2 separate regions of the Homo sapiens genome follow, and region 1 is linked to region 2. The links come from fine-mapping of genetic effects on gene expression. A gene starts in region 2. The other region holds a variant in brackets. All regions are shown on one strand. Distances are from middle to middle.

Region 1 (15,342 bases), 60 kb after region 2:
GAAAAACGATGCTTTTGAAAATATGACTCAGTGGAAACACTTCTCATCACACTGGCTTGCAAATAGAATCACTGCACTCCCTTTGGGTACTACGGGTGATTCCACTGGGCGTGCGGAATTCTTCCCAACAGAGTGTTAATTAAAGAGAGCCACCTCTTGGCACCTCTCTCACTCCAGCTACACTTCACAATCCTCCAGGCACCTCTTTAATCAACAACATGTGTTGAATATCTACATTTAGTGTGAGGCACTGCAGCTACCACCCTGATTTCAAAGGCAGTGGCAAGGACAGGTTTTATTGCATTACTTCAAAGTCAGGGCACCTAAACCTACATTAGAAATGCCATTAATACCTGTCATTGATGTGGAATAATGGAAACTTTCCAAGTAAAGCATGAATTTCATAGAAGAGGGAGATCTTGCCTTTGCACCCCAGCACTTTGCTCATAGGTCTCATTATGTTTATCTAATAAAACCACTTTTCTTACTGGACAGTATTAAGTTAATTTTGTGTCCCGACTTCTCTTAATACTGACAAAAACCAATGTGTTATTTTGAAATGCAGAGGCTGGTCTTTGGTGATAAACTTTACTCGAAAGTTTTTACTCAAAAAAGTGAAATACAGTTACTCAGGAGGCTGAGGCAGGAGGATTGCTGGAGCCCAGGGGTTTGAGGCTGCAGTGAGCAATGACCATGCCACTGCATTCCAGACTCTGTCTCTAAAAAGAATGAAAATGTTAAAAAATAAAATTAATTTAGAAAATAAAATACATTTTTAAAAAAATAGGTGCTACAGAGTGGGTGCCTTAAACAACAGAAATATTATTTCTCACAGTTCTGGAGGCTGGGATGTCCAAGATCAAGGCCCTTGCAGATTTGGTTGCTGGTGAGGGCTCCCTTCCTGGCTTACAGATGGCCAACTTCTCCCAGTGTCTTCACTTGGGTGGGGGTGGGGGTTGGAGGATAGGAATCTCATTCTCTTATTCTCTTCTTACAAGGTCACAATCTTATCTCATTAGGGCTCCACACTTATGACCTCATTTAACCTTAATTTCCTCTTTAAGTCCCTAACCCCAAATACAGTCACACTGGGGGGTTGAGGCTTCAGCATATAAATTTGGGGGGGACATGATTCTGTCCATGGCAATTGGACTGGCCTAAAAAAAAAGACTTTAATATTAAGATCCTTAAGTTATTATTTAAAAAAAAAACCCTGACTTAAAAAAATTGTTGTTAATAATTTAAAGTTTGAAAATACACTAATCTGTGGAGTGTTGAAAGTCAGGATAGTCATTCTCCTGGGGAATAGTGACTGAAAACACGCACAAAAGGGGCTTCCGGGATGCTGTAGTGCTCCATTTCCTGTTTGAGTGCTGATTGAAAGAATATAATTGGTTTGTGAGTATTCATTGAGCTGTTCATACATAATTTGCACACTTTCCTGTATGTGTGTTGTAGATCAATCAAAAGTTAAAGCATAGGCCAGGTGCGGTGGCTCACGCCTGTGATTCCAGCACTTTGGGAGGCCGAGACGGGAGGATCACTTGAGCCCATGAATTCCAGACCAGTCTGGGCAATGTAGTGAGACCTCATCTCTACAAAAAAATAAAAAGTTAGCCAAGTGTGGTGGCACGTGCCTGTAGTCCCAGCTACTCAGGAGGCTGAGGTGGGAGGATGGCTTGAGCCTGTGAGGCAGAGTTTGCAGTGAGCTGAGATCAAGTCACTGCACTCCAGCCTGGGTGACAAAGTGAGACCCTATCTCAAATACGTAAATAAATAAAAATTTAAAATGAAGCATAAATAAACCTGAGCGACACATTTAATACCAGAGATAAACTACACAGTTGTCCCATTGTCTCAGCCTAGACGATAAACAAGCTGCTTCTCCTTTGTCCTTTCTACTTTAAAAAGTCACAAGAGGTTAAAATCTAATGAGTTGGAGTATATGAAGAAGATTAGCCTTCTAGTTGAGTATAATATTGTCTTCCCAAAGGTACGGGCAGAACCGCAGACACAGTTAACGTTTCTGCCTGACATTGCTTGATGCTGTTTTGCTCAGACTGGTAGCTTAGCAGCTGGAGGCTAAAAAGTCAAGTTTCCAGGGAGAGGAGGAAGGCTTTCTGGACAAAGGGCAAGTGGACTCCGGGCCAGGGGCATAGCCGGTGTCCTCTCAAGAGTGGTGGCAGTTTTAAATGGGTTATAAACAAACACTGCCATGTTGTTCTGAGAGGTTCCAGCTGCCTTAGGCAGAGGCTTTGGATCTGTGCAAGCGCCAAAGCTGGCTTTCATAGGTGATGGGTGGAACTGAAGGATCACTTAAGACATTTGTGACCCTGAATATCCATGTCCCTTGAAGCTTTACACACACACATCCAAGGTAGAGTTGGTTTTCCCAAAGACAATTGCTGCTAAGGAGTTTGAACTGTGTAACAGTTTAGACCAGCCAGTGGCTTTGTAGAGACCTTTGAGAGTTACAATTAGGTTGCTGCTCAGATTGCATAATGCCAGGACTGTGCTCCATTGTTCCCAGCTCTTGCATTCAGTATTTTATTGTTTCACATTGTGCTTTAACTTGCTACAGAACATTAACAGCAGTAGCCAGTAGTTGAATGTTTTCCAAACCTTTCAAATTTGTAGAGCTGACTGTGCCACACTGGCTAATGAAAATTTCATGGTTCCAGGAGTGCTGGCTTTATCAACAATTATCTTGGTGATCTTGTATGGTCTATCATGTGTAAAACAGCATTATGTGCTTTTGCTTAACTTTTATAATTGTTGCTAAACAATTGTTTAAAATTACTGCATAAATGCTTTTAAAATAAATTTTGAAGCTCTTTGACATCAGTGCCCTCTGCCTGGTGGAAAGTAATGATTTTTAACGTTCTGATTTGGTGTTTGTTGGTGGAGTGTGTGTGTGTGTGTGTGTGTTTACTGGGAACAGGCTCTATCTGTTGGTGCTTTACTAAATTAATGGATTCTAGACATTAAAGCAAACCAAAAATATTTCACCTGCAAATATACTTTTCTGACATATTTCGAGATGGGTATTCAGAGGGCCTGCAGACAGGAATAGCCCAGCAAAACTGCCTTTTGTGGAGGAGATTTGCATCTGCAGAGAAAATCTGCATAGGTGAAATAAACAGCCAGGCTTTCTCTGAGGCTCCTCCCTTGTCTACATCTAGGAAAGATTGACTGAGAGCCTGACGCCTTTAAAGGTCTGACAGAAACATTCACCACAGGCTACCATCTATTCTTTCTGAGGGCTGCTCCCTGGGAAGTTTCATCTACATAAAAAGATGGCCTTTGCTCCATGCCTTTCTTCCTCTTCTCTACCTCCCATGACTTGCATGCTCTAAACCCCTATTCTTTCTGTAACCTTAAGACGGTACAAAAGCATCAACCATCTGGCCATTTTTTTGCATTTTCATATTTTGTGTGACTCCCAGCATGTAATAAATATTTATGGCATTTTTTTCTGTTAATCTTTGTATCATCAATTTGTTTTATAGGCTCAAATGAGTGAACCTTCAGGGGAAAAATGTAAACTTTTCTACAGCATTCATGATCACTTTAGGCTGTAGGTGTTGGTAAGTTTCTAAGCATTTGGGGATGTAGCTCTCTTTGCTTCACCATTAACCATCCTTTGACATTCAAAATGTCGTTGGACCACCAGCATGGCATTACTCAGGAGCTTATTAGAAATGCCGTCTCAGAGGCTCACCTTAAATATGGTATATAGTGGCAGAATCTGCATTTCAGCAAGATCTCCATGTGATTCCTATGCACATGCAAGTGAATCAGCAAGTAGGCCATGGAAGGAATTAAGAGATCTCTTTTCTCAAAACATCTCCCACTGAGCCAGGATTGTCATTATTTAGAATGAATTTCTCTAGTTTATGCCCCTTTTTATGAAATATCCCTGGTCTGCATACATAACTCAGCAAGTCATTTTCAGTTCAAAGCCTTCATGTGATCCATCCACTTGAGACAAATGGCAAAGAGCAGGTTGATTGGAAGGTGAGGGTTGGGGGAGGGAAGTAGAGTAGAAAAATGCAGTGCCGGCCAGGCGCGGTGGCTCACGCCTGTAATCCCAGCACTTTGGGAGGCCGAGGCGGGCAGATCACGAGGTCAGGAGATTGAGACCATCCTGGCTAACACGGTGAAAGCCCATCTCTACTAAAAATACAAAAAAATTTAGCCGGGTCTGGTGGCAGGCGCTTGTAGTCCCAGCTACTCGGGAGGCTGAGGCAGGAGAATGGTATGAACCCGGGAGGCGGAGCTTGCAGTGAGCCGAGATCCTGCCACTGCACTCCAGCCTGGACGACAGAGCAAGACTCCGTCTCAAAAAAAAAAAAAAGGAAAGAAAAATGCAGTCCTTTTGGTGGAAGAAAGTGGGCCAGCTCTATGACCATGGTTCCCTGGGACCGGGAAGCTGTGCCACAGTGGTGGGCAGGAAGTAACAAAAATACCAATCAATAATGCTCACAATAATGGTAAATAACTGTTGGTTCGGGGGTTCCTAAACTTGTTTCACAATCAGAATCACCTGGGTGGTAGAAGGGGACTTCTGTTTTTAAAATTATTTTTAAGGAATGGGGTCTCACTCTATCACCCAGGCTGGAGTGCAGTTGCACGATCCTAGTTTGCTGCAGCCTGGAACTCCTGGGCTCAAGCCATCCTCCTGCCTCCACCTCCCAAGTTGCTGGGACTACAGGTGTATGCCACCATGCTCGGCTAATTTTTTAATTTTTATCTTTATTTTTGTAGAGATGGAGTCTCAATATGTTGCCCAGGCTTGCCTCAAATTCCTGGTCTCAAGTGATCCTCCCGTCTTGGCCTCCCAAAGTGCTGAGATTACTGGTGTGAGCCACCTCACCCTGCCGAGGCTTCTTAAAAAATATAGATTCCCCAGAGGCAGGGACCCACCCTGCGTTTACGCCATCAGGAGAAACCTGACAATCTGTGTTTTAAACTAGTGCCTCAGGTATTAAAATTTATGCAGGACCAAGCAGAAGGTGAGCCTGGATCCTGTGGCTGATGATCCAAAAATATTATATCCAGGGCTCACAATAAGCCTAAAATATATTATGACATTTTCCTAACTGCATTTTATAATGGAGAAGTTGGGTTGCTTGCCCAGTGTCACACAGGCAGCGGGCAACAGATGGAGGATTCCATCGTAGATCTGTCTGACTCCAAAGTCTTTGTTCTGTCTATTCTTATACCACTTTCCATAAAGCCACTAGGGCTGAAGTGCTATCTTACTCAGGGCACATTCTGGTTGCCTCATCTCCCTTCTGTGGGGGTGATGGTTTCTGCAGAAGTTCCCTAATCTGACCTCAAATTATGACATCAGTATCTAGGCTTGAGTAGAATTGTGCAAGGAGACCAGACTGGTGAATTAACAAGGATGGTCCCCTCCTTCTTCCCCTTCTGTTGTGGTTAATAACTAGTAACTCAGACCCTATGATACTGATCCCCATAGGGATGAGAAACAGGGCTCTCTTGGGTAATTGAAAATTTCTGGTTGCCTGGGTATTGAGGCAGTTTCCAAAAGTGATGGAAGCAAGCACATATTGCTCCTGCCCTCTGAGACCTTATTTTGTTCCAATAAATCCCTAGAAAGAAAATACAGCAATTTAGTACAGCAATGTTAAATAGTGATAGTAGAGGGAACAGGGCACCATCTGGGACATTTGAATAATTGTCAAGGTTGGCTTTTCTTTAAATGCTGCTTATTGCTCAGTCCACCCATATTAAATCACTAGAGCTACAAGTCATCTGGTGGTGATTTTTTGGCATTACAAGATTGCGCTTGCATATTAAATTCCTCAACTTAGGCTCAGTTTGGGAATTCAAAATGCAGCATTTGATCCTCATCTGTATTTAATCTTCTGTTGTTGGTTACAGCTCCTTTTACAGGTTTATTTAAAAAACTTTTGATTCTGATACGGTCATGTTGAATAGTGGTTTCCCATGCAGGGTGTGCAAACCACCCAAAAATTATCTTTTTCATGGCAACATTAAAAAATTTTAATTTATGTGTATGTTATAATGTATATAATATTGGACTATAGTGGTAGAACATGTATATAATTTGTAAATAAATACAGATAAACATGGGGGGATACATGATTCAAAAGTTTTCTCCCTTTGAAATGTTGGCTCAAAGTTTACAAACTTTTCATCCAATATATTACCTCTTCCTAGCAGCATCATGTTATCTTCTCATTTAATAAGAGAGCCTTCATCTTTGTCAATTCATGTTTACTGAACTATGTAGGATTATGTGAATGTTCCAGCATATATAAGAGGATAAGACATTTGCTGTTCTTAGGACGTTTAACTATCTGGATGG[AGAT/A]GATGATGATAATAGTGGTAATTTTGGAGGAGGTGACAATGTTAATGGTGGTGATGATGCTGATGTTGCTGGTGATGATGATGGCCAAGAAAGAGATAAAGAAGAAAGTCTTATTTATGGTTGAGATTAAAGCAAAATGGGAATTGAAGGCTTCTCCTCCCTGCGATCTGGTAATGCAACATCTTTACCTAGCAGTGATGCTCTTCCCTGCTTGTTCATCTTCCTTCCAATATAGCTTAAAAATACTTTTTAGTCATCCTCAGCATGTACTATAAATCTCAGCTTCCTAGGATTTGAGCCTTGTGCAGGAGGTTTTTTCTAAGCCCCTTCCACTCTTCTGTATGTATTTTGGTCCTCAGTGCTCCACAAGCTGTGAAAGCTGTGAGTCATGATTCCCATATGGTGGGATTCCCTCCCCTCCCCTCCATCCACATGCTTGCCCTGCCATCTGCTGCCACTCTCAAGGTTATAGAGCAAGAGATAATGCAGGGAAGGGAAAGGAAAACACCAGGAAAACCAACACTGTTTTATAAGTAAAATAGAAAAAAAAAGATGTATTTTTCTTACTACGAAAACAACTGTATTCACTACAGAGAAATAAAAAACGGAAGCACAAAACCAAACCAAACCAAACCAAACCAAACCTAACCAAACCCAACCCAACCAACCCAACCCAATCCAAACAAAACAGTCTCCCTCTGAGCATCATTCATCACTTTAACCATCTCCATGTATGTTTTTCCAAATCTGTATTCTGTATCTATCTATGAAGCCAGCTATCAAATAAAATAAGATCATTACCACATATTTTTGTGACCTGTTTCTTGTTTAACTGAATCATGAACATCTTTTCATGTCAGTAAATGTACCCCTAAACTACCTTTTTTTTTTTTTTTAAGACAGAGTCTCACTCTGTCGTCCAGGCTGGAGTACAGTGGTGCAATCACAGCTCACTTCAGCTTTGACCCCCCGGGCTTAAGCAATCCTCCCACCTCAGCCTCCTGGATAGCTGAGTAGCTGGGACTACAGGCATGTGCCTCCATGCCTGGGCTCAAGCGATCCACCCACCTCAGCCTCTCAAATTTCTGGGATTACAGGTGTGAGCCACCATGCTCGGCCCACACTAGCATTTTAATATTTAATGAATATTTTCTATGCAAAGCATTATTCCAATTGCTGCAGTTTATACAGAAAAATAGGTAAGATAGTCTCTGCCCTCATGTGGGTATGGCATCATTTTTTTCTCCCTATCTAACATTTAGGTTATTTCCATATATTTGCTTTTACAAATAATGCTGTGATGAATATCCTTGTAGCTAAGTCCATGCATATGCTCATAATTTTAGAATGATTGTGCTGGCTACTCTCTGTTTGCCCCTCTGGTCTACTCTTCATTCTTGTCTGCCTTGGTCCATGGACCACATCAGGGCTCATTTGCCCTCTGGCAATGTGCAGCTCATGCAGGGCTTTGGGGAGGGCGGTAGAGAAGGGTGGGTGATATATTGTGACTCCTATCCTGCCTCCCTGTAGGCTGTCATTAGCTGCATTCTTGTATTGATGGTTGTGGTGCCTGGGTAGCCCTCTCCCAGAGCTTAGTTCTCAGGATGTTGCAAACCCCAAGGTAATGCACCATTCCTTGTTAGTTTCCTTTAACCTTGCCCTTGCCTTTATAGAGAGTTCTTTATTAAACCTTTCTCACTTACCCCATGTGAGTTTGCCATCTGTTTCCTGGCAGGACCCTGGATGATAAATGCATGCTCCTATTCCTAGCATATTCTGCATCCCTAATTGCTCACCTGCATTGGGAACTTGGGATGGATTGTGTAGGAAGGTCAAGAGCTCCCTTTTTGTTGACTGAAGGACTGGATACCCGTGATCATTGAGCAGCCATCTTCCATTTCTTTCTCCTGGACCCCTCCAGGCTCTGATGGGGATTTCTCAACCTATGCCTGTGGCACTCTGCTGGGGCCCAGAGGAAAGAATCAAGAGAGCCCTTAGTCCTCCTGCTCAGAGCTTTGACCTCAAGTATGTGAGAATTTCACCTTGTTCAGGATGCTCGAAACCTTCCCTAGAGTCCAAGTGAGGTGGGAAAGGTTGTTGTGGTCATTTCTTATCCTTTTAAACACCTGAGCTCACAGCAAAATTTGTTTATTAAATTATTTCTCTAGTTTTAAACAGTATTACAATTTTTTTTTTTTTTTGAGACAGGGTCTCGCTCTGTGGCCCAGGCTGGAGTGCAGTGGCATGATCACGGCTCAATGCAGCCTCAACCTCCTGGGCTCAAGCGATCCTTCCACCTCAGCCTCCCAAGTGGCTGGGACCACAGGTATGCACCACCGTGCCCAGCTAACTTTTGTATTTTTCGTGGAAGTAGGGTCTCCCTGTGTTGCCCAGGCTGGTCTTGAACACCTGGGCTCAAGCCATCTGCCCACCTCAGCCTCTCAAAGTGCTGGAATTACAGGCGTGAGCCACCATGCCTGGCCTATGGTATTCTTATTAAATAGCCAGAAGTATATTTTCAGAGCTTCTAGCTTGGATTAGAGTCCCCTGATACTATTTCTTCTGTGATTCTATCTTTTCTGTGCATCAGTAGAAATGTGTTTTCCTAAAGTCTACAACCAGTTTTACCTTCCTTGCCTTTGGATTTTCAGATAACACAATCAATCCCTTTATTCAAAGGTTCTTCACACTTCTGTTTAATCAATTGTTCTTGACTGTTCAGAATGAAGTGTCTGTCGCATTTCTTTTGTTACCTTCTGTTCAATGAAATTGTTAGCAAGCCTAGTCAAAAATGATCAAATACTCTTCTTTTTGGTGGCAAATGAGAGTTTTCCATGGAGGAGCTTTGGAGGAGGGTTGTAGACAAGGGTGGGTGATATATTGTGACCCCTACCCTGCCTCCCTGTAGGCTGTCATTAGTGCATTCTTGTATTGACGGTTGTGGTGCCTGGGTAGCCCTCTCCCAGAGCTTAGTTCTCAGGAAGTTGCTAACGCCAAGGTAATGCACCATTCCTTGTTAGTTTCCTTTAATCTTGCCCTTGCATACCCTGCATATTTGGGGTCCCCATCGTATTGCCCCGGACCCCGCTCCTTAATAAATTACTGCCTTTGGGAATTCCAGTTCCCAGAGGTGGGCACTAGGAGAAAGTTGGTTTCAGAGTCAGAAAGATCTGGAGTTTAATCTAATCATTATTTATTTATTTATTTATTTATTTATTTATTTATTATTATTTACTTGGCCCTGCCTAAGCAGGACCTCAAAAATTTGGTTATTAATTAATAATTGTTCCTCTCCATGGAAATCTTTAGTAAAAGGCCAAATATTTATTTGTTCTGAAGAGAAACCAGAGCATCCAATATTATTGGCTGTGTGAATCTAAGGCTTCTGCCTTACTGAGTTGCAAGCTTCCTGACTCAGCTCACAGATTATAAGAAGTAAATGGATTGACCTCTACGGAAATAATCAAGCACAGTGTGAGGAACTGTGGTTGCTCAGTCTGTGACTTATCCTCCCCAACTCCCTTTCCCACTTCCTCTTGCCATGCCTCTTCCCTCCTCCCTCTCCCCATCTCCCTCCCCCTTCCCTCTCTTCTACATTTCCCCTTTTCTTGCTACTTTCCATTTCCTGTCCCCACCTCTTCTCCTCCCTACTCCTCATCTCTCCTCTACACTTTCTATATGAGACTAACACGAGGACAAGAGGAATTAAAAACCAAGTCAGAAATATGTCAGATAGTTCCATTTCTCTTTGAAAACAAATCTTAGATGTGCAGGGCATTGTACTCAGAAGGAAAACTCCCAATCATAAATCCAGGCTCCAAAAGGCTTTTCCAATACGCCCCATTTAGTTCATGAACTCTCACCGTGGAGCATCAAGGACACAAAGAATGGCAGGAAACTGCTGATAATGTTCATTATTTTCCCAGTCTTTGAAAAATGCCCGTTTAATGTTTTGGACTGAAGATTTTTCCTGGTGAATCAAAAGATAAACTCTTAAAGTGGTTACATGATATATCAAATGGTCTTATCTGGTGGAAGCCAGCCGGCTAGCTAACATGAGCCAGTTCAGTAATTCTGAGGTGTTTGGAGTCAAGCTGGGAAAGGGATCCTGGGTTTCAGGAAACTGCTGTATCAGCTGATGGGGGCTGCTCTAAATGTTGGCTGGAGAAATGCACTTTGGGCCCTTTGCACCAAAATTTAGATTTACCTGGTTTCTCTTCTCAATTCTTACAAATCCTTAGCTTATCAAGGAAAATCAATGATCTTAAGATCTTTTAAGACTTTGCCCCACAATATGATGACAGAAAATATATTTTATCTTAAAATTTTATTACACTATATTATATATATAAAATAAATAATAAATATAATGTATAATATATATGTAAGTTGTGAAGACTATTGACATATAAACACACAGAGGCTGGAACATTAATATCTGGGTTGTTCTCCATGATGTCTGCCTCTCCCACCAAAATACCTGCTCTCCTGAATTTTGCATTCCCCTTCTTTAAAAACAAACTACTGAGTTTTCTGAGCTTCTTCCTAAGGAGTCAGGAGACTCGTGGTCTGGTTCCTGGATTTTCCTCACAACACAGCTCCCATATGCCTTTCTCCACTCATGCCTCAAAAGGAGAAACCAAGACCACTTTCTCCTCTGAGACAGGCAGAGACATCAGCCTTTCTGGGCTTGCTGAAGAAGGGAGAAAAAAAACTACAAGAAGCTATTGAACATATTGATGAAGTAAAAAATGAAATAGATTTAATGAACTAGCCAGTGAGAAGATTTTGACAGTAGAACAGAAATATAACAAACTCTGCCAACCATTTTTTCAGAAGAGGTCAGAATTGATCCCCCAAATCCCAAATTTTGGGGTAACAGCATTTGTCAGTCATCTGTAATCACCCAACGGATTCTTCCTGCCTGCTGCACAGATAAAATCAATTCACTGAGACCATGGTATTGTAGTAGAGGAAGAGTTTAATTGACACGAGTCCGGCCACGCAGGAGATGGAGTTATTACTCAAATCAGTCTCCCTAAAGGCTTGGAGGTTAGGGGTTTTCAAGGATAGTTTGGTGGGCAGGGGACTAGGGAATGGGAAATGTTGATTGGTTGGGGATGAAATCATAGAGGTGTGGAAAATGGTCTTTGTGCACTGAGTCAGCCTCTAAGTGGGGGCTGTAGGACCAGTTGGGTCATGAGCTGCAGTCACAGTCCAGGTAGAGTCATCTGAGTAGAGTCATCCCATCATCAGAAATGCAGAAGTCTGAAAAAATATCTCGAAAGGCCAACCTTAGGTTCTACAGTAAGGATGTTACCTACAGAAGTAATTAGGGAAGTTACAAATCTTGTGAACCCTGGAACAGTTGTTTATGCTTACAATTTAACAGAATTTTGGCCCCTCTCATAATCCTAAACTTGTGGGCTTTGATTCATTTTACAAAGGTGGTGGTGGTTTAGTTTTGGGAAGGGCTATTATCATCCTTGCTTTGGTTAAACTCTAAACTAAATTATTCCTCAAATTAGCTTAGCCTATACCCAGGAATGACAAAGGACAGCTTGGAGGTTAGAAGCAAGATGGAGTCAACTATGTCAGATTTATCTTACTCTCATAATTTTGCAAAAGTAATTTCACATCTGTAAGTGTCTGCACTGCTTGGGGAAGAGGAAGAAGAGGCACCTTGAGCAATATACAATGGGAAAAGAGTCTCTACCCCTTTCTGTTTCAATTCATTTTTATCCCTTTCTGTCTCAACGAAAACTGTATGGAATCAACACCACTGAGCTCTGCGGGAAAAAAGAAAAATCTGCTTCCTTTGCTCTGCTGGAAGCAGAAGGGTGTTAGGCCCCTGTGTGGTAGAGCATAGAATTCTAGCTTTTTTCCTTCTCAGAAAGAACACTGTGTCTCTTTGTGAATAAGGACAATTAGCATTTACCAACATGCATCCGTCTACTTTCTCTTGTTTAAAAACATAAAAAAGAATTTTTTAAAATGGGGTTCTAGGAAGTCAGTAAAGGTTAGGTTTGAGATGTTTGGATGGGTGAAGTGGGCATTTTGACAACATGGTTTCTCCTTTGGTATGTTTAATTGTGGTTTTTTTTTTTAAGCATCAGTTTGGTGAAAAATAATTTTGATGTTTACCAGGCATCCTTGCAGTTTAAGATGACACTAAAAATGAATTCTCTCCTACTGATGACTTGAGCCCTGCCACTTGCTAGAAGAATCAGCAGAACCTGTAGGATCTCATTTGGAATTGGCATGCTCTATTGTAATTTTGTCCGTGTTTATTTTTAAATTTTGATTTACTGGAAAGGAAAGATGATGCTCAGTTTTAAATGTTAAACGTGTACAAGTTGCTTTTGTTACAAAAGACTAAATGTGTACACAAAAACAAAAAAAAATTACTCTTACCAGATGCATTTCTGAACAATTTGTTTAGTTTTGCTTGTTTTTGAGCTTTATGCAAATGTCATAATAATGTATGTAGTGTTTTTTTCCTTCAAGTTTCTAACATTTATCAGTTCATCCGTATCATCGTTTGTAGTTGGTATTCATTTCTTTTTACTAGTGCCTTTGGCCAGGCACGGTGGCTCACGCCTGTAATCCCAGCAATTTGGGAGGCCAAGGTGGGTGAGGTCAGGAGTTTGAGACCAGCCTGGCCAACATGGTGAAACCCCGTCTCTACTAAAAATACAAAAAATTAGCTGGGCTTGGTGGCAGACGCCTGTAATCCCAGCTACTTGGGAGGCTGAGGCAGGAGAATCGCTTGAACCCGGGGGGTGGAGGTTGCAGTGAGCCCATATCACGCCACTGCACTCCATCCTGGGCAACAAGAGTGAAACTCTGTCTCAAAAAACAAACAAACAAACAAACAAAACACCACAACTAGTGCCCTTACATTTCATTTGGTGAATGTACACAATTCATTTATCCATACCACTGTCTATAAATATTTTGGTTGTTTATTGTTTCTGGGTGTTTGCATAATAGTCTTGCTAATGTAGATGAGACATATATTAATAAGAGAGCTGGTCACGGTGGCACATGCCTGCAGTCTCAGCTACTCAGGAAGCTGAGGCAGGAGGACCATTTGAGACCAGGAGTTCAAGGATGTAGTGCACTATGATTGTTCCTGTGAATAGCCATTGCACTCCAGCCTGCGCAATATGGCAAGACCCCATCTCTAAAAACAAAAAAGAATTATAAGAATTTTTATTATTCCTTTGTCGAATTGTCATAAACACTAGGTTAATTTTTCTAGTGTCCCTTTGCTCTTTTTCTCATTTCATCATTGCGATTCATCACCTAAAGAAACTTAGATGCAGGAAAAAAATAAATGATTTGCCCATGCTCTGTTATCACTGCTGTTATTTTCACTGCTGTCAACTCCAAGAATGAGTTAAGTCCTCTCTTGATTCTTCTTGTCCAAACAAAGAAGAGTGCCTTCCATTCTGATACCAGAATTTGAAAGATATTTATTATGATCTCATAAATTTATGACCCAAGAGGCAGTGTGTTATAGAGAAAATAATGTAAGCTCCGGAAGCAGGAAGATTTGGGTTTTAAAATGCTGGCATCAGCACTGGTGCTAGGGGAAGTGTTGTGCAAATTACTTTATTCTAAACCTCATTTTCTCATCTGCAAAATGGAGATAGCAATGTCTTCCTCTAAGGATGGCACACTAATTATATCAGGGAAGATGTGTGAAAGGTCCAGTCATCACATTATAAAATAAGGAACAGAGGGGGCTCACAGCCTGACCAGTGGAACTCATGATCCTACCCTAAAACCGACTCAGGTGGAATAAAAAGAGATCAGTTCTGGCTTGTTCAATTTCTGACATTTCCATGGATGGGTCTGGCCCAGAACACAGATTAGTGAGGTCTTTTGTTCACTGGATGGTAATATAATGTCTTGATTTTCTTCAGGATATCAGATTTTTCTTCCAAAACCTATCTTATGGGTTTTTTTTTTTTTTTTTTTTTTTTTTTTTTGAGACAGAGTCTAGCTCTGTTGCCCAGGCTGGAGTGCAGTGGCCTGATCTCAGCTCACTGCAACCTGCGCCTCCCGGGTTCAAGCAATTCTCCTGCCTCAGCCTCCCAATTAGCTGAGACTACAGGTGCACACCGCCATGCCCGGCTAATTTTTTGGATTTTTAGTAGAGACGGAGTTTCATTGTGTTAGCCAGGATGGTCTCGATCTCCTGACCTCGTGTCCGCCTGCCTCGGCCTCCCAAAGAGTTGGGATTACAGGCGTGAGCCACCGCGCCCAGCCTTTTGTGGGTTTTTTTTTTCTTTTTCTTTCTTTTTTTTTTTTGCTATGAGGAGGGGTTTTAATGAAGAGACTCTTTACAAAGAGTCACCCTCATCCCCTCATCTTGTGGGTTGTTTTTAACAGTTCTTTCGGCTGGTCGCCGTGGCTCATGCCTGTAATCCCAGCACTTTGGGAGGTGGAAGCAGGTGGATTACCAGAGGTCAGGAGTTTCAGACCAGCCTGGCCAACATGGTGAAACCCCATCTCCACTAAAAATACAAAAGTTAGCTGGGCGTGGTGGTGGGCGCCTGTAATCCCAGCTACTCTGGAGGCTGACGCAGGAGAATCTCTTGAAGCCGGGAGGTGGATGTTGCAGTGAGCCGAGATTGTCTGCACTCCAGCCTGGGCGACAGAGCGAGACTCTGTTTAAAAAAAAAAAAAAACCAACCAACCAAACAAACAACCCCGTCCCCCCGACCCCCCACCCCCGTCAGTTCTTTCATGCTGAGATAATAGCATAAAATTTCTTTGTACTTTCTGTTTGGCTGTGAAGGAAACCAGAATGTGTCACCTCAAAATATGCCTCTTTGACATAAATATTTTTGAGCTAAAGGCAAATAAGAATCAGCAATCAGAGGAAGAGCTCTTTCTATTCCCCACCCCTTCACTTTTTGCCTAAAGAGAGGACATAAATTCTCCTTTACTGGAGACAACTCTTATCAGCT
Region 2 (15,342 bases):
AGAAAATAAAAACCTAAGATAGGCTAAACACAGAACATTTCAGTGGAGATTATAATTTTCACTGAAGATCACTTAAATGATTTTTAGAAAACACAATGGGCAGTTACTGCTCGTAGCATTAATGTAAAATAATACTGTATACAGAATAACACAACCTGTTTTGAGACTCAATGAATTCTTGCTCCTTAGTATGAAAATAACTAGTATTCACACAACAGCATTAATTTCATTATTAAAACCATTTCATCTTATTTGATGTTTTCAACAGCAAGTACTATCTTTCATCCTTGATCACAGATTAAAAAAAGACAAAAAAAAAATGAGGCTTAAGAGTACAGCGCCTACAAGTGCTAGTACTGGGATAAGAAACCTGATCTTTTGACCTTAACTCCAGGCCTTTTTCCACTGTATCATACAAACTCACTTGGCATATATATCATGAGTTTGTGCATGTCTACTCTACCTGACTTCCACACTCAGTAAGTTATTTAAAATGGTGGAGCTACTGCAGTCTTATTGAGAGGAGGTATTCACATGTGTTCATTTATCATCATTGTGAAGGGAATAAGTCATGGAAGACAAAACAGGGCATCAATGCCAACTTTAACAAAGTGCTCCCTCTCTTTCCCATCGTTACTGTTTTTGTTTGTCTATTTAAAAGAGAATAGAGTATTCCAACTCTCCATCCTCCCTAACCCATGCTCATTAAATAGAACTTTGAATTTGAGGAAACTGATAAATGACACATAAGATTCCCTGATTTAAGAAAACTAAACATTAAAGGGACTGACATAAAAATGGTAGATTAAAAACCAGATATGACTAGCTGATAGGAACAGAATGCTAAATAATTTATTATACAAAGTTTACTAACAGTTTCAAGTAAAATTCCTTTTATTTAAGATTTCCTCATGCTACTATTAAACAAGCTAATGCTCGTACCATCCTCGCTCCTTATCCACAGTACTGCCTCTTTACTTACAAATAAAAAGCACTTAAACACTAGTCAAAGGTCCTAAACTGCATGAATCACTTGGAAGCATTAATTTAAAAATCATCAGAAACAATGTGTCTAAGCCCCAGCCAGTAATGTTTACTTTCACTCGGAATGGAAAAAGAATAATCAAATTAATGAATTCTTTGGTGTAGGTGAACAGATAGCTATCAGGATAATAATGTACCTCTTTCCAGAAAGCTTAGGGCAGGAAAAAAACAGAAACATAATAATTAAGTACCATTCACTGAATCCTCGCCCTACATGAGACATTAAATGTTAGCTAAGGCTTTTGCATATTTTACCACTCTAATCCTCACAACAACCGTATCCATGAGATACCATTATTATTTGCATTGATAAGAGACCCAGGTTTGAGTAACCTGCCTAGGAACAGCAATTTGACTCTAGAGCCCAAGTTTTACATTAAAAACTATAGCCAGCAATTGCATTAACGTAATCCCATACCTGGCAAAAATTAAAATGTGCTCGAAACAATATTTTAAGAGCTTTGAAGAGAAGTAAAATATGCCATACTGATTTAGTAAAAGATTACCAAGAGAACCTGAAGTGTACTTCCTATATTTAGGACCAAATGGTTTTAAAAAAATCAATAATGAGCTCATTTTGTTCTCTTAGTGCCTATTTGTAAGTCTAAATCTGAAGTAAAATTAATAATAGACTAGTAAGAAGAAAGGTATGTTTGGTTATTTTTAGCACAGTGGATTAAGGCTTACTCTAATTACTGGCACTCAGAGAACATCTGAAAGTGCCTATTCTTATATTCAAAACACATGACTTCTCCGCAGTCAGCTAAATATCAGCTAAATATCAGCTGACTGTGGGTGAATGTAGCTGAAGTGTTCTCAATACCCACTGGTATGTCATTAAAAATTCTTTTGTTAGTAAAGAAAATCAGTAAGTATTCTTTAACAAATTATCAAGCTAGTAATTTGGAGATATATATGTTTTTAAATTAATTTTAAAAGACCTTAATCCAGTGACTCTTCCACAAAATGCTACACAAAACAGGAATCAAAAAAGCACAGTATTCTGTCTTGAAGGGATCTTCAAGAGCATTTAGAGATAAGGAAACAAAGTGACTTGTTTAAAGTCATAAAACTAGCTAACGTTACAAAGGGAACAGAACTTAAGTCCCCAGATTTTCAGTCTGTCTTTTCAGCTAATATTATTCTTATCCATCATTCCCCTCTCAAAAGGGGGAATTTGTATGCCAAATACTCAGGATGAAGAATGTAGATGAGATAATTTAACAAAAACAACAAAAATCACTTGCTGATATGAACAGCAGAAGTCCCAGTCCAGAATTTCTCAGGCGCTAAGCAGTAATTCTCCTGCTTAAAAAGCTCTTCGCTTCCAGCAGTAGGGAAAACAAACCACCTGTTTATACCAACAAAAAATATGTCCGTAAGTGGTAGAGTAGATGAGGTTTTCAGTATGAAATGGAAGGGGGAACGTATAGAGAAAGAACTGATAAATTCCACCTTTTGTATATGACTGATATCTCAATAAAGCTGTTTTTTTTAAAGTCCACCTTTTATTTAAAGGTGCTTGATATAAGTATCAGAGTTGGATTAGATACCCTTTGTAGCTTTCAAAAGAAAAAGTAGTGGCTCAACACGGACAGACTGAGTGACATGTGCATGAACACCAAGCAGTGCTTTCCTTTCTTCCCATAACAGCCCATTCCTGGGATTGAATCCCTTGCTGGTATTTTCCTCCTCCACACGGGGGACTCCTTCCCCTATCTAGAAATAAGCTTAAGCCTCTCACACCTTCTTTTTTAAAAACCTTGTCCCCCACTCCTATGTCTATGAGTGGTTACCACCTCGTCTCCTGTCCTTCACAGCAAAGTTCCCCAAAATAGTCTACACATGCTATTTAAATTTCTCCACCTCTTCACACTTCGCCCCATTACATCGAGAGTTCTATCTCCACTATTCCACTGAAAATGTTCTGGCAAAGGGCATTATATGAAATGCTCACTGTAAAATCTACCAGATTCCTTCCTCACTTTCATTGAACTTTATGCAACATCTGGCATTGGTGAAATTTCTCATTCCACTCTGAAGGTCCCTTCTTCATCTCCTTTGCCTGCCACTTGAATGCTGGTGATCTAATACTTTGTCTTATTTTCCCCAGACTTCCATACTTACACCAACCACATCCCACCAGAAAATCAGGCTTCTCTTAATGAAAGTCACATAGACATCCCCAAATCAACTCACCCCAAAATAAGCCGAGTTATCTAGCTCACCTTGTACCCCATCAGCAAACCAGAAATGTGGAGATCACCCCACTCCTCCCTTTCCTTCGCTGCTCTCTCCGCTTTGTTGTTGTCGTTGAGGGTCTCACTCTGTCACCTAGGCTGGAGTGCAGTGGCCCAATCAGGGCTCAGTGCAGGCTTGAACTCCCAGGCACAATCAATCCTCCCACCTCAGCCTCCAGAGCAGCTAGGAATACAGGTGCATGCCACCACGCCCAGCTAATTTTTTTTTTTTTTTTTAATTGTAGAGACGGCGGGGTCTCACTAAGTTGCCAGGGCTGGACTTGAACTCCTGGGCTCAAGCGATTCTCCTGCCTCGACCTCCCATATTCTTCCCACTTCTAGAGGTGACCAAGTCTTATCAAACCTACCTATTTGATAATGGCTATTTAGTGACAGCCCTCCTTTCTAGCGCCTGGGTTCAGGATCTCACATAGTCTCCTACTGATCCTGCAGGTGCCAGTCTCAGCCCCTCCTGCCCTCATCCATTGTCTCAGTTCAATCTTTTAAGATATGTAAACCTGATCTTTTTCCAGCCCTGTTTAAAATCTTTGCCTCTAAGCTTAAGATCTGAGTTGCAGCCCCATGTCAATCACTAACTGGCATATGGCCCTAGACAAGTCACTTCTCCCAAATTTGCATTCTTTATAAAATTGAAGTTTGATCAACAACGGCAGTTTTCAAACTCAAGAACTGTCTCCTGTGCAGAGGGGTAAAGGCCAAGTGAGCCAGGATACAGGATCCTCATTCCTGATTTCACAAGGAGCAGCCTCACTTCCACTCATTTTATTTAAGGTTCTACCCATGGGGCAAAAAGCTTAAAACAAAACAAAACAAAACAAAATCACCTGACTAGATCACTGTAAAACATCTCTCACCTCTCAAATGATATGACTTTTCTATAATCTTTAATAAGACCAAACGAAACACTGGATACAAAATCACCCAAAGATACAAAATCACCAAAGATCATTCAATAATAAAGAGGAGTCCTCAGTATTTAAGAAACTTATGTCTTGTAATCTCCATTTCTTCCCAGCCATCTCCCTGACAAAATATCCAACCCATATTTGGAGTGCAATAAAGGGAAGCTGAGAAGAAAACCAGACTTCTCTCCCACCCTCATTGTATCCCATACTGTTACTTCCATGTATACTCCCCACACAAGAGAACTTTTTATATGCAGAAATGCTCTTATCTTAAATTCAGCAAATTATTCAAAAAGAAACAAATGGGGAATGAAGTAAATGTCCCCTCAAAAAATGTTCTGTAAAAGAAGAAAGTTTATTTCTTTTAACCTACTTAGAACAATCTTGAGAAATTTATTTTAGGGTATTCAGGGTTTCAGATATTTATAAAATAAAGACGTATAGCATTAAAAAAATTTTAGTGTTAAAAGCCAATCTATGAGTCATTTTGTAACATCAAATTTTTAAAAAATCTGTCCTTGGAAAAATTATCTGTCATATTTAATTGCACCCCCACCATAGCAACAAGGGTACTTAAAAGTTAATAAACACTACTTACAAACACATCTCATGTATACACAAAGTTTTTAAAACATCTATGTGATTGAAATAGTCTACATAGTCAAGGTATTTACACGTGAGTAAGATTCTAAAAATCAGATAAAAGGCATGTCAAATATTAGTCATTACTTTATAGATTTTCGGGGAAAAAGAATTAGACTCTATCTGTACTTGTCTCAATTCAGAGAATTACTCACACAATTTAAAATACTGACCCTACTTTCCCCTGCAATGAAATGAATTCATTAAACTCTTCTATAAAGATGATTAAGCATGAATAATCATTTATGCCTTTAATTATATAACTAGTTTTCAAAGGATTTCCCTGCCTTTATCATTTCAGCCTCAGTAATTATCAATCAAAACACTAGTTATTTTAAAAACACAAAGCTTTACCTTAAACCTATTTCATCTAAATCTTTATTAATCGTTATTTATAAATGTCATCACTGAAGTCTGCAATTTCCTAAATGACCTAACATTTGATTCTATTTCACCTTTCTGACAAACAAAAATTATACCTTTTGTAAACAATCTTCAGATCTCGCCACTCAAGGAAGCTGCACATTTTAGGTTTCCGTGCTAAAACGGTCTGAACAAGTTCTCTTGTGATCTTTTTCTTCTCTTTGTCTGATAGTGGGACATACCATTTTTGCAGTCGAAGCTTTCCCTGACGACTAAAAAGCAACATAAACTGCATCTGTTAAGATAAATAAAATCAAGATTACATGTAATACTTTGAATCAATAAAGTTAAGATTATGTGTTTCACAGAGAAGTTTTGGGGGATGGGGCATTTACATGACAAATGATTAGTAGCCATCAATATTTCTATGCCAATTAAAATAGCAAGAAATTCTTTTGGACAGATCTTCCTCTAGATGCAAACCTTCCAATCCCACCTTGTTCCACATTAAGTTTGAAGGGGAGTGTGCAGGAGAAAAAAGAAAAATGGGTAATAAGCTGAAGTGAAATTTTTGAAGAAAAATAAAGATCACTCTTTCAATTTAAGAAACTATTTTCTACCTGTGCTATACATTGCGCACTCTCTATATGCATCAAAAGAGAATGGTAGACATCATCTGGTTTGGGTACTTTTGAAAGAAACAGAAGACCTGCTATTTTTCATCCTGAGGCCGTTCTAGTTCCAGGGTGAATTACTTGCAGACAGTAGCTTATGTCTTGGAATGTTCTCCTCAGTTTATGATGGCATATTTTAAGCAAAACAGAATGATCCAAAATATTAACTGAAAAATCCCATAAATACAAATTTTCATTAATAAAAAAGTATGTTTTCATCTGACTTTTAAAGCATTCCAACTTAAATATGTACAAAATCTAGAACTGAGTTAATGTATTATGAAAAAGAAAACAAACGTTTAAAAGGCCACAATAAGATTTACACTTATTAAATAAGATTCAGCATTGAAACATTACATGAAATACTTCATTTAAAATAAAAAATAGTATCTACAGATGGAATGGATGCTGAATTCTAGTGTGTTTTATACTTAAACTAATTTGTATGTATTTATTTGTGATCTGCAAATGTGTTGATTAGTCTGCATGTTTCATTTTTAACGCCAAGCTTTTTGTAATCCAATTGGTCATCTCAACTGCAAACAGAAGTATTGTTTCTACAAAGGTAATTTAAAGGCAGAATTCACATAGGTATCCTTTTTTCTTTTAATCACTGTTAAGTTCCTTTAACAGCGTTACTGCAAATAAGATTCAAGCATGATTCTCAAGATTCACCACACCATCTTGAATTTGAACACGGGGAGGGGAAATTTACAGAACCAATGTAGAATAAAAATGGGCCCTAAATTTCGGTAAGAAATTATCGTCGCTTTTTGTAACCACCCAAAAAGGTATCAACAAGATATCTAGAAATGTATGACGTGGCAATTCAACTTTAGTAAAGTTAAAATGGTCTTATTACCTCACTTAAAATGCGTCAGGGGAACAAAATATAAGGACATTATTAGGTGATACCAAAGTGCCTCCCGTGCAAGTCCTGAAGATAGCGGCATTCGAAGGGGGCAGGAAGTGAAGCATCAACTGGGCATTTACTGCAAACCCGTTACCAGAACTTGGAAAAGAATGGACCTCGTATTCCTAGATCTTGGTGACCAGAAAGGGTGAGGGTTTGCCTGCGAAGAGTATGGGCTCAAGGCTGTCTGGAGCAGGGTCCTGTATCCGCCCTACCACTTTGCAGGACGAAAAAACAATGTATTCTCCTTAAAATAAATTATGTCCTAACATGGGACGAAACCCGGTTGCAAAGCACGAGTATTCCTTCCCTCGTGTTAAAAACCAACGCTTTGATTTTGCCGCAAATCACAGGGCACCACAATTCCTCGAGACTGGCATTAAAAACAATGGGCTCAGCCGCGGCGCGGGCTCGGGGCCAGCGTTCCTCGGGTCCGGCCGTCGCCGGTGCCTCCCCCCCACTCCCGTGGCCACACTCCATCACTGACCAAGCCCGGGAGAGGTGACAGGCAAGGAGCGGAGCAGACAATGGCATCCGCCGCCGCGCAGGGGGCGCCAAGAGTCCTCGGCCGCCACCGCCCCCGGCCCCTCCCGAAAGCGCCCCGCAAAACTTGAGGCGATTCCCGAACCACAGGTGCCGCGAGGCTGTCGCGGAGCCCGGGACTGGCCCCCACATCCCCGGGCGCGGCGCGGAGTGGTGCGGAGGGCGCGGACACGGAGAGAAGTGAGTTGCGGGCGCGGCGACCCAGTGGCGGGCCGGGCAGGCTCGGGGTGGGGTCGTCGGGGCGCGCGCGGGGTGGCGGGGGGCGCGCCCAGTCCTCCCTCCCCCTCTCCCCCATCCCCGGCGCCCCCTTTCGCCCCCAGGGACTTACGGCGGCCGCGGGCCGCGGGCGCGGCGGAGCTTGGCCGGCGGCGGCGGCGGCGGCGAAGGGGAAGCCCCTGTCGCCGTGCTGAGGAAGAGAAGCCGTGGTGCTGTGGGGAGGACACCCGGCTGGCATAGGGCAGGCTTAGGCGGAGAGGGGAGGGCAAGCTGACAGACCCCGCCCCGGGGGCCGGACGAGGGAGGAGCCGGGGCTGCGGCGAGCTGAGGGGCGGGCTAGGCGACGCGCGGGAAGCGGCTCAGCGGTCGCCAGCGGCACCGGAGGCAGCGCGGGTAACCGCTGAGTCCAAGGCAGCCGATTGGAGGTTTCTTCGCTGAGGGGAGGTGCGAACCGGAAGCCGGGCCACGTGACCCGGAAGCGGCGTTTGCCGGGCCCGAGCGCCCGCGCGCCCGCGCGCTCTTGCAGGTGCCTCCGGGACGCGCGCGGGCGGCTGTCCTGCTTGTTTAATGATAGGAGGACGGGATTCTGCAGCGTCCTTAGCCTAGCGGGTGGTGCGGGGCAGGGAAGTTCCGGACAGCGAAGAGCCACGTTCGAGCTCTAATGATTCTCTGTGTCCCCAGAGAGGAAGTGTGAAGTGTGACGGCTGACGAGGAGGGTGGGAGGAGACGAGGGAGTGCTGCAACTCTGGAAAAACAAGTCAGCTCTTCTGTGGAGCTCGTCACGCATTCACGGGCCTTTTGCTATCATTCTGCCTCAAAATTGTCCGGAATCCGCCCTCTCCTTCCCATTGCACTGCTCCAGCCCTAGCCCAGACACCTTCCGCCCCGAGCTTCGCGGGAGTCTGTTCCCTGGGCTCGCCTCGCCCATCCTCGGTGCTGCGGACTGGATGAGTTACCGTCCGTTCGGCTGAAAAGCCCGGACAGCACCTCACCTTCGAGATCCCGCTTCCTTCACACTGGGTCGCCCCACCAGCCGCCTGGGTTCCAGTTTAGCACTGCCGACGACTTGCTGTGCCTGGCATGTCCTTGCTCCCAAATGTCACATCTATGAAGCCTCACCCTAAAACCCTGTAAGAGCGATTCCCTCTTTCACCCACATGCCCGTTAGCCTTTATTTAGCACACCTTAAATTGTATTCATTTTGCATCTCAATCTAGTTCACAGCCTGGTATATAACAACTAATAAATGTGAGTTGACTGATAAAGACTATAAAATGATAAATTTGTTAAGAGCTGTAATGCTGAGCGTAATGCCTGGGCATAATGGATGTTCATAATTTTCTGAATGATAGAATGGATGAATCATCTAGTCATTTACAGATAAGGAAAGGGGAGTCCCACGGGATTAGGTGACCTTCCTTGAAGAGCCACGGGTTTCCCATATCGAAATGCTATTCATTACCCGAGTCACCTAGGTTCTTACAAAGGAAGCGAGAAAATTGCTTTTGTTGGGCCATGCCCCTTTTGCAGAGGTTCCTAAGTATAGTCGCCAGAATTTTTTTAATGGCCTAAAGTAAAAAAAGAAATGCTAAAATTTTCACGAAGCTAAATGTAATCAATGTAAAGGAATCCTTTATTAGGGATTATATTCTTTTTGTGTACATTATAGTATCTATGAAACTAAGACAGTAGTTTTGGGGGCTTTTAAAAAATGCTTTTGTATGACAAAACAAAAAGAAATGTGTAATACTTCCCCTTTTCAAGCACTACTGTGCTGCTTGGAAAGTTTCCTACTAACATGTATGATTAATGTATACTGGAATATTAAAGAAAGGGGACGACACACGGCACAGAGCTGGCTTTCTGTAGTTCTTTAGGTCCCCCTCGCCCCCACCAGATTTCTCCCTACCTAGTCATGCCCCAAAGGTGCTTTCGAATGTCCCATTTCTCTCTTACTACAAGAAACAGATGCCATTAACCAGTTAAAAGATAGCTCTAATGCTACACAATGAAAACTCGCCCTCTGAATCCAAATGCTGCTTTTCTCTTTTTCTGTACAAAACACTTATATCCTGAAGGTTCCTGAGATAGCCACTTCCAAGTTTAAACTCTGATTATGCTCCTAATGTTGCTCTGAAAATGAGGACGGGAGACTTGCTGATGACATACTGGCAGTCTCCTTTCCTGCTCCTAGCCAAAAAAAGGTGGGGGTAGGGGTAGGGAGGGGAAGGAATTGTGGGAAAAATAATTAGCAGCTGAAAGCAGCTATTACATAATCTTGGCTGCTTATTAATTTAGCAGAAGGAATGGCTTATTAAATTCTAATAGCAACAGCACAACTGCAAACAACCTAGCAATTAACAGTGCAGGGCCCATTATTTTGTTAATATGTTCTCTTCTTTTGGCAAGTGTATGAGAACAAAATTTATAGAAGCAGATGGTCTTTTTCAATAGATTATAGATGGTTTATTCCCTAGTCTTAGTATTAAGTGCTAATTATGCATTCACTGTGAAAGACAAAAGAAACATGGTTGCCATCTTTGTTAGTAATTAACTGCTTGACTTTGATTCCCACAATTTCCCAATTGTAGGCTTTGTTATATACATGTTTCTTCTCACCTAGTGTCTTCTTCATCCGTCATGTCAATTGGTTATCTTTTTTAATCCTGTTTTTGTTTTCTAGATGGTCCTGATTTATTGGTGTTAATATTGATACAAGAATTATATACAAAATTCGTTTCATGAAAAACTAAAAATCAGATTTTATACTTGTTTCTTAAATTTGAAAAAAATGCTTCACTGTCATTTATGCTAAATGTAAGAGGTGAGGGGAAAATAGAAATCTTTACCTTCTAACGATAAAATTTTGAGACTTTTTATGTAATCTTTCCAAAGTTTTCAAAAATAATTTTAGTTTCCTATTAAATGTGTGATGGCCATATACTTTTATCCTCTCACTGTCTCAAAATACCATTAATTTTTTTTAAAGGGACTATTTAAAACACATACCCACGTGGAAAATAAGAGAGGGAACATTTACATGAGGATGTCGATAAGGATGTCAGGATACACTGTCAGCTCATCATTTAAACACTGATGATTTAAAGAAAAATTGTCATATATTGATATTATGGAGGAGCAGAAGTGAGGGAAGGTTGAAATAATGCTAAATCCTCATGTGCTAAAGGGAAGAAAATAGATAACATCTAAAATAAATCACGAACTAGAATTATTAGCATATTCTTTCGATACCAGGAAGTAAATCCCAGAAGCAATGGTGAATTTCTTTCCATGGACAGAATCTTGCAGTAGGATGTAATAAAGGGTATTATTACATTTTACTTAGGTTTTTTCTTAAATAATTTTTTAAAATATTGTAAGGAGGTAGATAAAAACCATTCCATTAGTTGCTAGCTCTGTATTATGGACTTATACAGAGTTCCTTTAGCCAGTCTATAGATTATTTAGAAATTATTAAATAAAAATGCCCAATAATGGAATTCAGTGCTGAAGCCTTGTAGATCACAGAAAGTGTAAAAAAGATGTTTAGAGTTTGTGAATTTGCATCTCCAAAGATAAAGTTGTTCCAGGGAGAAAAATGGCCTAAAATAATGAGGATTTGTGAACCAAATCATTTCAAAATAGATAGAGCTGTCACTGCCAAAGTCCTCAACAATGAGCTAAAGAGAAATGTGGAACATATGCTCTTTCTCGAAGCCTGTTTCCATAGCTTTGAATAAAATGCAGGAAAATTACTACTGCCCTATGAACATTAGGATAGAGCAGTGATTCTCAGCCTGGGCACTTTTGCCTCCCAGGGGACACTTGTCAGTGTCTGGAGACATTTTGGTTGTCACAACTAGGAGTAGTAGGTGATGCTGCCAGCATCTAGTGGGCAGAGACCAGGGATGCTGCCCAGCATCCTGCAACATACAAGAGAGATCCCATAGCAAAGAATGATCCAGCCCCAAATGTCACTAGTGCCAAGGTTCAGGAAGAAATCCTGGGTTAGTCACTGAAAATATTAACATGCAGTAGCATATTTTTATAGACATTTCAAGAAATGGAACAAACATTATCTTCATATAAGTTTCTCTCTCTCTCTCCCTCTCTTTCTCTCTCTCTCCTCCCTCTCCCTCTCTCTCCCTCTCTTTCTTTCTCAGAGTTGGAGCCATTATTCTTAATATCTGCTAGATAAAATCCTTAACTGCTTAAAAGACTGGAGGCATACATAAAGCAGTCAGTATTCTTTAATAGCAACTAGAATAAACTATCCAAACTGATTTTCAAAAAATGACCCCAGAATATTAGTAAAAGTTACTTAAGCACTTGAATCCATGAGATGCCTATTCCATCCATACATACATTGTAAATGTTTGTTAGGTATCTACTTTATGCTGGGGCACTCTGGAAGGTAATGAAGATATAAAGACAAATAAGATATTGACTTGGTCCTAAAGCTCCATTTCTTCTGACACAGAATTTCTAGTCTTTTAGAGACAAACCCTGGATGGTCAAAGGATAGTCATCAACCAAACGTATGAACATTTTCTTTTAGGAGACCCCTAGAGATGCTTCATAGAACCTTAGATTTCTGTAACCAACACGTTTGAAAACTATGTGCTCTCATGACCTCCCAGGGCTCTTCGCAATATTTTCGTTCGATGAATTTCTATGTCACTCTTAATTCACAGCAATATAAGAGAGAGATTCTGTATGTTTTAAACAAACGATTTCAAATAATGTCTTGATTTGATCCTTGAAGTGAAATGCTTCAACAATGATCTAACTCAACTCCAAATCGCTAAACCAGTGGTTCTAGAATATTCTTTTAGAGGACTTGTGAAAATACAGGTTGCTGGGCCTCATTCCCATAGTTTCTGATTCAGGGGGTCTGAGATGAGGCCTGAGAATTGCATTACTAACAAGTTTCCAGGTGATGCTGATGCTGCTGGTCTGGGAACCACACTTTGAGAACCATTGCTCTATACCACAAAAAGCTATGATATCCAACTAGAAAGTTGTGATATAATTTTCATGGTCTAAAGGAAACTTGAGATCTGAATATTTTTTTAATCGCTGACCTCATTAAGCCCGAGAACATTAGAAGAGTAATATTCCCAGTTATATTCACCTGAAGCTAAATCTGTATGTACAACTGAGAATGACATATGGTCATTGTATGCCCTGCACAATCTAATGCACTATAATATTCTTTTTTTTTTACTTTTTTTAAAATTATACTTTAAGTTATAGTGTACATGTGCACAATGTGCAGGTTTGTTACATATGTATACATGTGCCATGTTGGTGTGCTGCACCCATTAACTCATCATTTACATTAGGTATATCTCCTAATGCTATCCCTCCCCCTCCCCCCACCCCATGACAGGCCCCGGTGTGTGATGTTCCCCTTCCTGTGTCCATGTGTTCTCATTGTTCAATTCCCACCTGTGAGTGAGAACATGCAGTGTTTGGTTTTTTGTCCTTGCAATAGTCTGCTGAGAATCATGGTTTCCAGCTTCATCCATGTCCCTACAAAGGACATGAACTCGTCCTTTTTTATGGCTGCATAGTATTCCATGGTGTATACGTGCCACATTTTCTTAATCCAGTCTATCACTGATGGACATTTGGGTTGGTTCCAAGTCTTTGCTATTGTGAATAGTGCCGCAATAAACATACGTGTGCATGTGTCTTTATAGCAGCATGATTTATAATCCTTTGGGTATATACCCAGTAATGGGATGGCTGGGTCAAATGGTATTTCTAGTTCTAGATCCTTGAGGAATTGCCACACTGTCTTCTACAATGGTTGAACTAGTTTACAGTCCCACCAACAGTGTAAAAGTGTTCCTATTTCTCCACATCCTCTCCAGCACCTGTTGTTTCCTGACTTTTTAATGATCGCCATTCTAACTGGTGTGAGATGGTATCTCATTGTGGTTTTGATTTGCATTTCTCTGATGGCCAGTGATGATGAGCATTTTTTCATGTGTCTGTTGGCTGCATAGATGTCTTCTTTTGAGAAGTGTCTGTTCATATCCTTTGCCCACTTTTTGATGGGGTTGTTTGTTTTTTTCTTGTAAATTTGTTTGAGTTCTTCCTAGATTCTGGATATTAGCCCTTTGTCAGATGAGTAAATTGCAAAAATTTTCTCCCATTCTGTAGGTTGCCTGTTCACTCTGATGGTAGTTTCTTTTGCTATGCAGAAGCTCTTTAGTTTAATTAGATCCCATTTGTCAATTTTGGCTTTTGTTGCCATTGCTTTTGGTGTTTTAGACATGAAGTCCTTGCCCATGCCTATGTCCTGAATGGTATTGCCTAGGTTTTCTTCTAAGGTTTTTATGGGTTTAGGTCTAACATTTAAGTCTTTAGTCCATCTTGAATTAATTTTTGTATAAGGTGTGAGGAAGGGATCCAGTTTCAGCTTTCTACATATGGCTAGCCAGTTTTCCCAGCTATAATATTCTAAGGCAGAAACTGAAGTGCTTAGGGAAACTCGAAGGTTGCATCATAAAAGTCAGATGCTTACTTGATGAAAATCACTACCTTAAAAATATTTCCCAACTACTCATGGCAAGTAGGAGTCACCTCTGAAATACTTTGTCAGCAATTAAAGACATGGGGTAGAAAGGAAGAAGTCCAGAGGGAACAGCTAGACAGAATCAATGTGTCCCAGGGGTAAGGCAGAGACCAGAGACCGCTAAGTAGTAATCAAAACCTGCCCGTTCTCTTCCTTAGCACACAGCTAGACCTCATTCCGCTGCTTCCTCTGTAGTTAGGTGTGCCCATGGAGCTGAGATCTGGCCAATGAAATAGGAATAAAAGTGACAGGTCTAGCCTATAAAAAGCTCCCACAGGAAAGTCTGTTTCCTTCTTCCCTCCTTCCCTCCCCAGACCTGCTTTTGCCACTTGGATGATGACACCCAGGTATCCTGCCAGCCTGAGTTCCTGAATGACTGCAAGGAAGAGACGTACACAAACCACTACCACCATCATCACTCCTATTGTACTTGAAATGAATGAGAAATAACTTTGTATTAAGCCACTGATTTTTTTTCCCAGGTTCATTTGTTACAGCTGCAAGCATTCCTGTTCATTCTTGAAAGCTTGTTGCATACTTAGTTACAAAGAGAAGGAGCCATGCATAGTGATGGGAAGAGCAAGTGAATTTTCAAGTGGATACTTGATTCTAATCCTGCTTTTTGTGCTCTTTTATATGTCTCCCTTCCATTGAAATTTGAGAAGAATTGTTAAACAGTCTGAGCACAGAATTTTAAACTACTTGTCTATCAAAGAGGGCAAAAAGAATGATTTAAGGCTCTTTTTTACATTCCTCTGACAAAGCCTAGCATTAATACTAGGCAATAGAAAAGGCAAAATTTAAAAAATCGTAAGGCTGAAAGGGCTGAGGAAGTGAAGTGGGGTGGTGGGCAAGCACATTTGGGTAAACTGTCCCTAATTGGCAAAAGTGAATACAGTATTATCATCAACCTCTTAGAATCAAAAAACCAAAGCTTGAGATTTATTTTTGACTCTATTATATCCTTGTCTTCTAAATACTATACAAAAAGCTAAGTTAAAATATTTATCCTAAAGCACTATTTAGAATACAGGAACATTTTAATTAGATAATTTGATGAAAAATTTTAGAAATACTGTACACATTTTAAATATAACACATATATAAGATAATAGAATTTTAAAGGTAATTTTATTCAAGAATTTTATTTTACAAGTGAAGAATGAAGTCCAGAGAAGTTAAGCAAATTGTTCAA

What was found.
Region 1: its variant is fine-mapped to the expression of AP1S2 in whole blood (TOPMed, PIP above 0.99). The same link has a PIP of 0.9 or more in blood mononuclear cells and monocytes.

What each region holds. Positions count from the first base shown.
Region 1 is chrX:15,906,590-15,921,931 of GRCh38, forward strand. It overlaps the pseudogene RNU5F-7P and the pseudogene SETP15. Among named protein-coding and RNA genes, the nearest start is that of AP1S2, 59 kb to the left of the region's middle. RefSeq lists an enhancer at 2,077-2,989. The variant AGAT/A (reference allele first, on the strand shown) is at 6,359.
Region 2 is chrX:15,847,015-15,862,356 of GRCh38, forward strand. It overlaps AP1S2 (adaptor related protein complex 1 subunit sigma 2), which reads right to left and starts at 7,799. Exons shown (of 6, transcript NM_001272071.2): 1 at 7,674-7,799; 2 at 5,332-5,510. The coding sequence starts at 5,510. RefSeq lists silencers at 7,226-7,515, 7,736-8,015, 8,106-8,215 and an enhancer at 7,833-8,437.